Regions from separate parts of the Homo sapiens genome. Here region 1 is linked to region 2. A link means that fine-mapping ties the variant in region 2 to the expression of a gene that starts in the linked region. Tissue or cell type: atrial appendage. Region 2 holds a variant in brackets; the other region holds the start of a gene. All regions are shown on one strand. Distances are from middle to middle.

The links. PIP is the estimated chance that this variant, and not a neighbour inherited with it, causes the effect.
Region 1: ELOVL7 starts here. The variant in region 2 is fine-mapped to the expression of ELOVL7 in atrial appendage (GTEx, PIP above 0.99).

What each region holds. Positions count from the first base shown.
Region 1 is chr5:60,843,106-60,845,712 of GRCh38, forward strand. It overlaps ELOVL7 (ELOVL fatty acid elongase 7), which reads right to left and starts at 1,164. Exons shown (of 9, transcript NM_024930.3): 1 at 1,055-1,164. RefSeq lists silencers at 836-895, 906-1,065, 1,086-1,385.
Region 2 is chr5:61,187,574-61,190,332 of GRCh38, forward strand. All of the region lies in intron 3 of SMIM15-AS1 (SMIM15 antisense RNA 1), which reads left to right. Among named protein-coding and RNA genes, the nearest start is that of SMIM15, 26 kb to the left of the region's middle. RefSeq lists an enhancer at 127-642. The variant A/G (reference allele first, on the strand shown) is at 1,260.

The sequences.
Region 1 (2,607 bases), 340 kb before region 2:
AGCACAGGGTTAAGTGAACATGCTTTCCGAGGGGAGATCGTAGCAAGAGGGAAAAGACCACTGGCGAGGAACTCGGGTCGCTAAAACTGTTCTTCAGTCGACGCGGGACTAACTACACTGGGAGCAGGACAGGTGTAAAGACCCGCTCCTTCCCGTCCCGAGTTCCCCAGGGAGCTCCAAAGAGCGCTCTGTCCGCACCGGGTGAAGTTTGAAACAGCTCTGACTTGAAGGGGGAAAGCCCATTTCCCAACGAACCTGGGAAAGCCCATTTCCCAACGAACCTGGGAAAGCCCATTTCCCAAAGAACCAACGATACCTGGGACGACAAAACAACAGGCTTTCCTGTTTCCATCTCCGGCACGACCTGTTCCACGGCTCTGTATTCATCAGCCTCCTCCCGGCCAGCAGCAGCCACCAAGACAGGATGCGGCTCGGGGAGCCGAAGGGACAGCGCCCCAAGTTCATCTGGCCGCGGGAGCAAAAAAAGCGCCCAAAGGGGAAGGAAGGAAACAGAAAGAAAGGGGCTCCGGAATTTGGGGGGGTGGCTAGCGAGGCCAGACCCCGGAGCTGGGAAAATGACCTCCGCGTCCAAGGTCGAGCAGGTCCTTCTCCCTCCCAGTCCCGCCGGCGAGCACCTCTGCCCCTCCCGCTCCGCTCCGCAGGGCCAGCGCCGCGCGGGACCCCAGTCCAGGCTCCGCTCCGCAGCGCGCCCACCGGGCCCGACCTTCCCTTCGGGATGCTGCCGGGTGGGGGCTCCCGAGAAGGCGCAGGTGAGCGCCGCGGCCCCGCGCTCCGGCGAAAAGGGCCTCGGTCCTCCCCACGCGCAGGCAGCGGGGACAGAACTTCCCAAGCGCCTCCCGAGCCCAGGGAGGGCCTGGCCCCGCTCCCGGGGCCCCCGCACCCGGGTCCCACTTCTCGCGCGCCGCGCCCAAGTTCCTCCATCCGGCCACTCCCGACGCCGTTCCCCTCGGCTCTGCCTCCCTCCCCAGTCTCTTCTCCTCCGCGCGCCGGGAAAGTTTGGCCCCTGCCCGCCGGCCTGGAACCCCGCACTCACCGCACAGGGAGCGGAGCCGAAGCGCCGGGCGCGCGCGGGAGAGAGGGCGGCGACTGGCAGCGCGAGCGCGGAGCTCCTCACAGCGGCCCCCGCTGTCCCGGCCGCCGACTGGGTTGGAAAGGGGAGGAGGCCGCCGGGTGTCACCTGCCCGCTATCCCACCCAGCCGCGTGACGCGCGCAGCGCCGCCCCCTGCCCGCCGCCGCCAGGTGCCCGCCGAGGGCCGGAGGGAGGAGCCGGGGCGGCGCGAGGGGGAGCGGCCGGGAGGGCGGAGGCCGCCCCGGCCTCGCCTCCGCCGCGCGCCCTGACTCTCGGGACTGGGGCCCACCGGCCGCTCTGGGTTAGCGGGGCTGGTCGTGGCACCGATGACCTTTCTTTCCGAGAGCAGATGCCATCACTTGGGGGACATCTCCAGGCTGACATAGCAGAGTGGAAATTGTCGTCATGCGTGACTCATTTGGGAATGAGCAGTAGAAAAATCCGAAATGAGGAAAACCTAGCTGAGGCTGGAGGCGGAGAAAAAGGGGACTCCTTGCTTCTGAAAGGGTATTGGGAGGGTTAATTCGCATCTGAAATGGAAGCCAGACCAAGAGGAGAAGGCCCTGGGAGGGGAAGGCCGACTTGGTTCAGCTCCATCCCCTGCTTATAAGGAATAAGAAACTAGAGAATTGAGGCAGCCTGGGGGGCATGGGGAGAGGACTTTTAGAGCAATGAAGATTAGATTGTATATCATCTAACTTTGTTTCTGGTAACAGCAACTGCTGCAGGAAAAAAAGTCTAGAAAATTCATTTCTCGTTACCTACTGTTGGATTGGAAAGTGGGGGTGGGGATGAGCGTTCGGAGTGTGCACCTGCGCTTGGTTTATTTATTTTTTAAACGTACCTGGCCTTGTGTCTGGTAATGATCCTCCTAATCGCTGGTATGATTTGGATCATCAATAGCTGAAAGGCAAAATAGGGGCCTAGAGAAGTTCCCTGCTTCTGAGGCAAAACCAAAGGCTGGTGTTGAACTGTCCAGAAACCTAAAAAACAATAATCATTTTTAGTTGCAGTCCTGACCCAACCACCTCACAAATGTGGGCTTTGAGTTTGTATTGCGAGTTCTCAGCATGGAATCAAGAAACACAAAAAGGGGCTGGGAGCGTCAGGACCACCAGAGAGGATGGGTAGGGAGAAAAAAAAAATTGGGGTGTCGGAAGCATATTTTCCTCACATGTAGGGATTGCCTTCGGCAGCTTAATCCCACTACATTAAACAAGAGGTTTTAATGTTTTTATGTAAAACTTCGAAAGTGTCCATTGAAAGAAAAGCAAAAAAAAAAAAAAAAAAAAAAAAAAAAGCTTAAATTGCAAAGAATCTCGAAGTCAAAAAAACTAAAGATTTCTCCTTTCTTTTAGATAACTTTGCTTTCATATTAAAAACAGATCATTTAGTAGACTTAGGAAGTCTTTTGGGAACGGGAGACAATTGCCTAATGATACTAGCCTTTGAGTCTATCACAATTTACCATTTATATATACTTATGAAATTTCAAATATGCAGAAGCTCAAATGGA
Region 2 (2,759 bases):
ATGAGGAACTTATTGGGAACTGGAGTAAAGGTCACTCATGCTATGCTTTAGCAAAGAGACTAGTGGCATTGTGCCCCTGCTCTAGAGATCTGTGAAACTTTGAACTTGGAAAGATTATTTAGGGTATCTGGTAGAAGAAATTTCTAAGCAGCAAAGCATTCAAGATGTGGCCTGGCTACTTCTAAAAGCTTGTGCTCATTTGCATAAACAAACAAATGACCTGAAACTCAAACTTATATTAAAAGGGGAAGCAGAGCATAAAAGTTTGGAAAATTTGCAGCCTGACCATGAGGTAGAAAAGAAAAATCCATTTTCTGGGGAGGAATTCAAGGCTGCAGAAATTTGCATAAGTAAAGAAGAGCTGAATGTTAATAGCCAAGACAATGGGGAAAATGCTTCCAGGGCATTTCAGAGACCTTCACAGCAGCCCTTCCCATCACAGGCCTGGAGGCTTAGGATGGAAAAATAGTTTCATGGGCCAGGTTGAAGGTCCCGTGCAGCCTTAAGACATGGTGCCCTGCATCCCAGATGCTTCAGCTCTAGCTTTGGCTAAAAGAAGTCAAGGTACAGCTCGGGCCATTGCTTCAGAGGGTGCAAGCCCAAGCCTTGGTGACTTCATGAGCCTGGGCCTGTGGGTGTGCAGAAGACAAGAGTTGAGGTTTGGGAGCCTCTGCCTAGATTTCAAGGGATGTATGGAAATGCCTGGATGCCCAGGCAGAAGTCTTGATATGGTTTGGCTCTGTGTCCCCACAAATCTCATCTCAAATTGTAATCCCCACGTGTTGAGGGAGGGAGGTGATTGCATTATGGAGGCAGTTTCCCTCATGCTATTCTCATGATAGTGAGGGATTCTCATGAGATCTGATGGTTTAAAAAGTGTGGCACGTCCTCACTTGGCACTTCTCTCTCCTGCTGCCATGTGAAGAAGGTCCTTGCTTCTCCACCTTCTATCATGATTGTAAGTTTCCTGAGCCCTCCCAGCCATATGGAACTGTGAGTCAATTCAACCTCTTTCCCTTATAAATTACCCAGTCTTGGATATTTCTTTATAGCAGTGTGAAAAATTGACTAATACAAGCCTGCTGGTATTACTCAATACAAGCAGCAGGGGTGGAGCCTTCATGGAGACCCTCTACTAGGGCAGTGCAGAGGGGTAAATGTGGCATTGGAGCCCTCACATAGAGTCCCCACTGGGACACTGCTTAGTGGAGCTGTGAGAAGGGGCCACCATCCTCCAGACCCCAGAATCAGATCCATCA[A/G]CAACTTGCACCATGCACCTGGAAAAGCCACAGGCATTCAATGCTGGTCAGTGAAAGCAGCCACAGGGACTGTACCCTGCAGATCCACAGGGGCAGAGCTACTCAACGCCTTGGGAGCCCACCCCTTGCATCAATGTAGCCTGGATGTGAGACATGGAGTCAAAGGAAATCATTTTGGAGCTTTAAGATTTAGTGACTGCCCTGCTGGATTTCAGACTTGCATGGGGCCTGTAGCCCCTTTGTTTTGGCCAATTTCTCCCTTTTGGAATGGGAGCATTTACCCAATGCTTGTCTCCCCAGGAATTAACTAACTTGCTTTTGATTTTATAGGCCGATAGGCAGAAGGAAGTTTCCTTCTCTCAGATGAAACTTTGGACTTGGACTTTTGAGTTAATGCTGGAATGAATTAAAACTTTGAGGGACTATTGGGTAGCCATGATTGTGTTTGGAAATGTGAGAAGGACATGAGATTTGGGAGAGGCCAGGGCAGAATGATATAGTTTGTCTCTGTGTCCCTACCCAAATCTCATGTTGAATTGTAATTCCCAGTGTTGGGGGAGGGATCTGGTGGGAGAGGATTGGATCATGGGGGCAGATTTCCCCCTTGCTGTTCTTATGATAGTGAATTCTCACAATATCTGATGGTTTAAAAGTGAGTGGCACTTCCCCCTTTGCTCTCTCTCTCCTGCTGCCATGTGAAAATGTGCTTGCTTTCTTTTTACCCTTCCACCATGATTGTAAGTTTCCTGAGGAAACTTGTACAGCCTGTGGAACTGAGTCAATGAAACCTCTTTTCTTTATAAATTACCCAGTCTCAGGTAGTCCTTTATAGCAGTGTGAGAATAGACTAATACACATGGACACCCTCCTCACTTTCTCCTCTCTTCCTGCCAACTGAGTCTGTGTTGTTCAATTTAAACTGTTTTATTCAATGTATCTGTACATAACTGGCAAATAATAAATATGTAATCAATGACTTAAAAACTACATTTTTAATGGACATGTTCTATATTGGACTTTGAAGAAGATATTATTGAACTACCTGAGTGTATACTCGAGCTCTGCTGTTGCCTAACTGTGCAGCCATGGAGAAATTAAATCAACTTTTTAATATTTCTGTGTCCTCATCTGTTAAGTGGGATGATAATATAAATAATTATAAGATAATATTAATGAAGATAGATTACACGTGATGCCTACTATGCACCAGGTGCCATACTAAGGACTTGACATATATTAGGTCATATAATCTCCAAAATGGTTTTTTGGAGGACATGCTATTATATTCATATTACAGAAGAGACAGTTGTCGTTTGATGTAGTGCCAGTATCTCATTTTTCAGATGAGGAAACAAAGCACAAAGAAATAATTTATTCAAGATCACATAACTAATAACTGGCATGGCTGTAATCCAGACACTATGCCTCCAGAAAACAATTCTGACACATATGAAAATTCCTAGTACAGTGCTTGCTACACAGTGGGTGCTAGTAAGTAAT